Homo sapiens: one gene and its partner. The protein of the gene in region 2 purifies or fractionates together with the protein of the main gene of each other region. This does not show direct contact. Each region holds a gene or a part of one and is shown on either strand. Other genes may lie near its edges. The genes, in order: USP48 and FMNL2.

Region 1 (3,817 bases), on a different chromosome or scaffold from region 2:
TGGTAAAATGCTGTCTCCAAAAAAAACACAAAAATTAGCAAGAGGTGGTGGTGCATGCCTGTAGTTCCAACTACTCGGGGGGGCTCTGGCAGGAGGATTGCTTGAGCCTGGGAGGTTGAGGCTACAGTGAGCTGTGCTCGCACCAGCCTGGGCGAAAAAGTGAGATCTTGTCTCAAAAAACAAACAAACAATAAAAAAAAACCTTTTCTGTTCAAATTATTGTGTAGCTTCTGTCTTCTAATCAGACTCTGAATATTTGTATCCTTACTACCAATTGTGGCTTTCAGCAAGTCAATATACCATCTGTAAAATAAAGATAAAATATTACTCCTTGGGGTGCAAAGGTTTTGCAGGCTGGTAAAAGCTATTCAAGGCCTGGCACCATGGTTCATGCCTGTAATCCAGCACTTTTGGAGACCGAGACAGGAGGACTGCTTAAGGCCAGAAGTTCAAGACCAGCCTGGGCAACAGAGCAAGACACTGTCTCTATAAAAAAAATAAGTTTAGGCCAGGCACAGTGGCTCACACCTGTAATCCCAGCACTCTGGGAAGCCGAGGCGGGTGGATCACCTGAGGTCGGGAGTTCAAGACCAGCCTGACCAACATGGAGAAACCCCGTCTCTACTAAAAATACAAAATTAGCCGGGCGTGGTGGTGCACGCCTGTAATCCCAGCTACTCGGGAGGCTGAGGCAGGAGAATTGCTTGAACCTGAGAGGCGGAGGTTGTGGTGAACCGAGATTGTGCCATTGCACTAGAGCGTGGGCAACAAGTGTGAAACTGTCTTAAAAAAATAATAATAATAATAATAAAATAAGTTTAGGCTAGACACAGTGGCTCACACCTGTAGTCGCAGCACTTTGGAAGGCCGAGGCAGCCACATCACTTGAGGTCAGGAGTTCGAGACTAGCCTGGCCAACATAGTGAAACGCTGTCTCTACTAAAAATACAAAAACTAGCCAGGCGTGGTGGCGGGCGCCTGTAATCCCAGCTTCTCAAGAGGCTGAGGCAGGAGAATCGCTTCAGCCCAGGAGGCAGACGTTGCAGTGAACCGAGATGGCGCCACTTCACTCTGGCTTGGGAAACAGAGGAAGACTCAAAAAAAAAAAAAAAAAAAAGTTTAAAAAAATGTTCAGGAAGAGAGCTCTCCCCCACCCCTTTCCACCCACCTTTTTCTTCTTGGATGCCGTCTCCCAGCATGTAGTCACTACAAGTGCTTGGACATAAGTAGAGTGCCTGCCGAAGCTCCAAGTTGAGAAACCACACTTGAAGAAATGTGTTGACATAACAAGTGGCTCCAAGGTTAGTCAGGCCCACAAATGAGTTCTACAAAAATACAAAATTCATAATTATAAAACCCATTTTCCTTTAAACAACCAATTTCTAAGCATTATTCTTAAATTTTCAGATTAAAAATGTGTAAGACCGTCACAACCAACATGGTATAGCCACCTTAAGTTTCTCTTGGCTGGAGGTGGGGCATAATTTTCATGAAAGCCCCATTTTGGGTTGACCACAGGAGTGAAAAAGACTTCGGACGGCATCACTGCTCATCTCTAGCATATCGTCTTCTCCAGCCACTTAAATCTAAAATTAGAACAGTGGATTCTAGAAAAGATCGGTTTTGAACAAGCGTATATAGGTTTTATGTTTTCTGTATTTCTAAACTGCCAGCATTCAGCAGAATGACAAAGTAAAACTTATGCAGAAAACTTCCTTTATATTCTAGAGATTTTAAAGATTGGCGGTGGTAGAGGGAACTGGCTGCAACTTTTTCCAAAGATAAGGTTGGGAATTCCTGACCTTACAAAGAATTATTATTTTATTAAAATATCTATATATAACAAACTTGGATATTTCGTGAATGCTAAGATTTATGTCTAGAAAATTTAATGTATATTTTTAAAAAGCAAAATTATATATAAAATACAAGCCCTAGAAAGCAAAGTGCTATCATCATGAGTTTGTTCCCTTGAATTACCATCTCCTTTAAAGAGGCGTTAAGATTTCAAAATAAAACATGCAATGTTAAAGCAAACATAGAATCAGCATTCAAACTAAAACTATTATTTAAAGGCTTACTGAATTACGCAGCTGCCTGTTTTAAAGCATATCATTAAGAAGTGTTCCAATTCAAGTGGCTTAGAGTCTTAAGTTCTACTGCTTATCTTAAAGCTGCACAGGTTACCTGAAATCAGTAGAGTTTTCTGATCACAGGCCCAAAACAAAAGCAAAAACAAAAACAAAAAACAGCATATAGCAATCGCTTAAAAAATGATGGTTTACCTTTTTTCTCCTCTCACAGTTGGGATCATCGATGTTATGAAAACTATTTTCATCTATTTCTCCTAACCAAATATGCTCACCAATACCAACCAAGCAATTCGGATTTCCTTTGCAGTTTCGTCTAAGGGGAAAAAAAAAACCTTTAATTTTTAAAAGACCATAGTTTCATGAGAGACAAACAAATTAAAACTAAAATGAGATACCACTTCTCATCTATAAATTAGCAAAACTGAGAAAGTATAAGACACTCAGTTTGTGAGGGTGTGGAGAAGAAAGCATGCATATACTGCTGGTAGAAATGCAGTCACTAACAAAACTACATAGACAACTACCTTTAGACCTAGCAATCTCATTTCTGAGGATTTACTGTTCCTTAGGCTATACCTCCAACAATGCAAAATCTCACTCATAAGGTTATTCATTACAGCACTGTCTGTTAATTGCAAAATATTGGAAGCCACCCAAATGCCCAAAAATAGACAATATGGTACATCTATATGGCAGAGTACTATGCAACTGTAAAACACACACACACACACACACACACACACACACACACACAGCATGAAAAAGATATCTATGAACAGATATAAGGTAATTTATAAATCCAGGACACATTATTAAGTAAAAAAAGCAAAATGCAAAGGAGTATCTCTAGTATACTGTTATGTGTAAGAAATATATAAGGAAAATATACATGTACATATTTCTGCTCATTTTGTACAAAAAGAAATACAGAAAGGAAAAACAAGAGACTAATGAAATTGGTTACCTACAGAGCATGAGTGGGAATAAGGTTAAAAGAAAATACACCTTTTCGGCCGGACACAGTGGCTCACACCTGCAATCCCAGCACTTTGGGAGGCTGAGGCAGGCGGATAACAAGGTCAGGAGTTCGAGACCAGCCTGAAACCCTGTCTCTACTAAAAATACAAAAATTAGCCGGGCGTGGCGGTGCGGGCCTGTAATCCCAGCTACTTGGGAGGTTGTGGCAGAAGAATCCCTTGAACCCAGGACACGGAGGTTGCAGGGAGCCGAGATTACACCACTGCACTCTGGCCTGGGCGACAGAGCAAGACTCTGTCTTGGAAAAAATGAATGAATGAATGAATGAATGAATGAATGAATGAAAAGGAAATGTACCTTTTCATATAATGAACAATTTGGGACCATGTGACTGTTTCTCACACTACTTCACGCATGCACACAAACAAAAATAAATCAACTGGCTAGGCGTGGTGGTTCACGCCTGTAATCCTAGCCCTTTGGGAGGCCAAGGCAGGAGGATCACTTGAGGTTAGGAGTTTTGAGACCAGCCTGGCCAACATGGTGAAACCCTGTCTCTACTAGAAATACAAAAATTAGCCAGGTGTGGTGGTACACGTTTGTAACTCCAGCTACAGGCTGAAGACTGGAGGCTGATGCAGGAGAATTGCTTGAACCCAGGAGGCGGAGGTTGCAGTGAGCCAAGATCGTGCCACTGCACTCCAGCCTGGGCAACAGAGAGAGACACGGTCTCAAAAAAAAAAAAA
Region 2 (3,817 bases):
ACTCAGGCAACTAATTTGCTGCATTACAGTTACAATATTAGGACAATGGTTGGGACAAATAAAAAGTGTTGGAGAGCAAAGATTATTACTCATGTTACTAGATAGCAGAGAGGGCAAAAACTTGCCATATTTGGACATCCTAAATTCTTGGTTGCAGACCACATGTTTACAAACAAACCTTAGAAGATGATCAGGGACTGCAGACAGTGGCTGACTAGACTACCAGAAGTACAACGTCATGAAGGCTGACTTCCTGTGGGTGATTCCGATAATGAAGATATATTGGCTGCTGGGTTATTTCAAGCAGACTAAGGGATATGAATGGCCTAAATGAGAAAATAGGTTTTGAGGTCTTGCTCTGTCACCCGGGCTGCAGTGCAGTGCCGCAATCATGGCTCGCTGCAGCCTTGACCTCCCAGGCTCGGGCAATCCTCCCACCTCAGCCTCCAAGTAGCTGGAACCACAGCTGTGTGCCACCATGCCTGGCTAATTTTTATATTTATTGTAGAGACAGAGTTTCACATGTTGCCCAGGCTGGTCTCAAACTCCTGAACTCAAGCGAGCTTCCCCACTCGGCCTCCCAGAGTGCTGGGATTACAGGCGTGAGCCATCTTGCCCAGCCTAAGAAAATGTTTAAGACAACAGAGTGAAAAAAGGGGTACATACAGACCAAGACTCTGTCTTAAAAATAAATAAATAAAAGGGGCGGGGGGGAAGGAAAAGAAATTGCTGGGCGTGGTGGCTCAAAGTCCTAGCACTTTGGGAGGCCAAGGCAGGTGGATCACCTGAGGTCAGAAGTTCAAGACCAGCCTGGCCAACATGGTGAAACCCTGTCTCTACTAAAAATACACAAATTAGCCAGTTGTGGTGGTGTGCACCTATAATCCTAGCTACTCGGAAGGCTGAGGCAGGAGAATCGCTTGAACCCGGGAGGCAGAGGTTGCAGTGCACCGAGATCACGCCATAGCACTCTAGCCTGGGTAACAAGAGCGAAACTCCATCTCAAAAAAGAGGAAGGAAGGGAGGAAGGGAGGAAACTCCTCTTTTTTGAGATGGGAAGGAAGGGAAGGGAAGGGAGGGGAGGGGAGGCGAAGGGAATTGAGTGGAGGGGAGGGGAGGGGAGGGGAGGGGAGGGAAGGGAAGGAATTGTATGGATTCTCAGACTCAGAAATAGCCACAGTCCCTTGCCCTTCATTTTGAAAAGCAAGTTCTTCCCAGGAGTCAGCTGTGTTTGACTAGGAGGTATCTACACACTCATTAAAAATACTGAAAACCTCTTAATAGAGAGAATGGGATGTATCTTTAAGGGACTATGGGGAGTGCCAACTCCTCTCACTGTGCGGGAATATGCCAAAAAAGGTAATCCATTTAAAATTATATTTATCTATTATATATCATAAAGAAGTCTTCCCAAACCATTTAGCCATACACATTCAGCTTCGTCAGTCTGTTCTGGGTAGCCTACCACACTACTTGGGAGCTTCACTATTTGTCATTATTAGCAAGACAGGGAGGAGAACTTCAGCGCTTCAGTGCAGAACAAAATAAAAGCAACACACGACTAAGCTTGTAGCTGGCTGCCTGCCTGCCTGCCTCAGTTGGCGTTAACTGAGACAGACAGTGCCTCTCATTCCTCCAGAGTTACAAAGGCCATTTAAACAGCAGGAATGTCATCTGATAAATCCACACAAAAGCATGCAGAAAAACAGACACAGCTTTAGCCAAACCAGGCCTCTCCACCACCAAACATGACACCTTTGTCCCCACTACGCCACAGTGTCAGATTCCTCACCGTACAGCATTTTGTCTACGCTACCCAGGAAAACAGATGTTCTCGATGGGACAAAGGAACAGACTTTCCTCTAGCACTTGCCCTAGCATTGCCTCTGGCACTTCGGCAATGTTAGGGATCTGGGGAGCAGCAGAAGGGCCGCAGAGGAGTCTTTTCATAACCTGAGGTGACAGGTTGGTGCCAATGGCGTCCTACCTTCCTCCCACAGACATGGTAGGCTCATGACGCTCGCTAGAAGTTTGCCATTTGCAACCACCCTTCTAACTATTTAGCAAGGTCAGGAATAAGCCTGAGATCAGAACACAGGCAAGAAAGTTCTCCTCCTTGGAAAGGTTTTCCTGGCTTTAACCAGGGTGGGAGTGGGAAGAGGAGGAAAGCACATAGGTGACCACTGGACACACTGTGTCCCCATGGCTCGGGCTAAAGGCGGGTGAGTGCTCCCTGGAGTGGGCCAGAGACCAGCATGAGGGAGGGAATGGAAAAGGGGCACCTGGCACCTTTTTTTTGTTCTTAGAGTTGAAGTCTCAGATACAAATATAAAAATTAAAAGAAGAAGAAGAAAAAAAAAAAAAAACCTTTTCTCAGAGGAAATGGAAGAGGGCATATGAATCCAGGATGTCTGCTTCAAGGACAATAGTCTCTTATGTAGGTTCAACTAGAATGTGTGGGCAAACCTGGAATCATCATCAGCCACCACCAAGACTTCCCGCAGACACAAAGTCAAAATGCAATGGATCAAAGCAAAATGGAGTGGAAAGATGTCAAGGCACAGTGTGACCAACAGAAACACATGGCAAATACTCAACACACTCAGTGAGGAGCAACCTACAGAAAAGCTTGATTGGCCCATCTTTTGTGGAAGCAGAAAGAACAGAGAAAATACAAAAAAAATTAGATATGGTTAGAGTCAAGTGGCTCAGCAGTTCACGCACTCAGCATAGAATTTCATGCTTCTTGGACACATTTCACAAGGCGGCACAGAGCCAAAAATTCATTTCCATTCAGGCCTGCCTCCAAGACTCAACTATTTCATTTTTAAAATTATCCTTTTTAGAAGAGGGAAGAAAAAAATTATTTCATCGTAGTGGTACCAAACAGCAATACTGAACTGTGCTAGGCATTCCATAGGATAGGAATAATTTTTACATGAAAAACAATCAACCAAAGTCCAAATTCGCATTGTGAGGATCCGAGCACATCCTCCCAGACAGACGGCAAAGGTTCCACCTGCTCAGCAGCCTGTCTCAGGTGACCTACCGGGGGAAAGGGAGCCAGGTTGTTCTATCACAGACTTGAGAGGAAGGAAGCCTTCTTCTTCAAATGCATATTTCACACTACTACTATTTTCTCTATAAAATACAAAGAAAACTCTCAACTAGATAAACTATGGGGCTCTCCTCTTGGTCTTCTGTCTTGGTCTCCAAGAACACACCTGCCCATTGAAGAGATAAGACCCTCGTGTTGCCTGTGGGTCCAGAGGCCAAGTGATGTCATAGGTTTCTGACTTCCCAGGAGGCTTCAGAATATTAGCTCAGCTCTGTCTCTTCATTCTACTGGGCATCCTGATTCTGTCTGGCCTCTTGGTTCCAGAGTGAGAGAGAGAGTTACTCAACACACTAGCAAAACATCTCACCAAATGGGCTTCAATCACTAAGAATTAACAGTCTAAATAAGGATGAATAATAAAGAAAGATTAAAGGCCTTGGAGAAATTGCCTGATCTCGAGCTATCAAAGACTCACAAGGATCTTATAATGCTTCCAAGACATCCCTCACAATCATTTAGTGGACACTTATGGAAATAAAGAGTTCCTGTATTCCCACCTACAGTCCTCTAAATTGCATGAGCCACAACAGGGACCACTTCCAAGTATAGCAAACCCTAAAAGCAGTTGGTTATCAGCCAAGCACAGAGCTCTACACCTTAAAATATTGAGGCAATTGACAGAGCCAACACATTTTTAAAATCAAGTAGTGGGAAGAACCCAAGCAAAACAATTAATAAATAGATCAATCACACAGGACA

What was found.
Region 1: the proteins of FMNL2 (region 2) and USP48 purify together in Homo sapiens (affinity purification with mass spectrometry; one large-scale study listed by BioGRID and IntAct). This does not show direct contact.

The regions. Positions count from the first base shown.
Region 1 is NC_000001.11:21,755,378-21,759,194, forward strand, and holds part of USP48 (ubiquitin carboxyl-terminal hydrolase 48), read right to left. Parts: intron 2,407-3,817; coding exon 2,286-2,406; intron 1,328-2,285; coding exon of another isoform or gene 1,326-1,327; coding exon 1,169-1,325; intron 1-1,168.
Region 2 is NC_000002.12:152,621,362-152,625,178, reverse strand, and holds part of FMNL2 (formin-like protein 2), read right to left. Parts: intron 2,643-3,817; coding exon of another isoform or gene 2,622-2,642; intron 1-2,621. UniProt on the Homo sapiens protein: Plays a role in the regulation of cell morphology and cytoskeletal organization. Required in the cortical actin filament dynamics.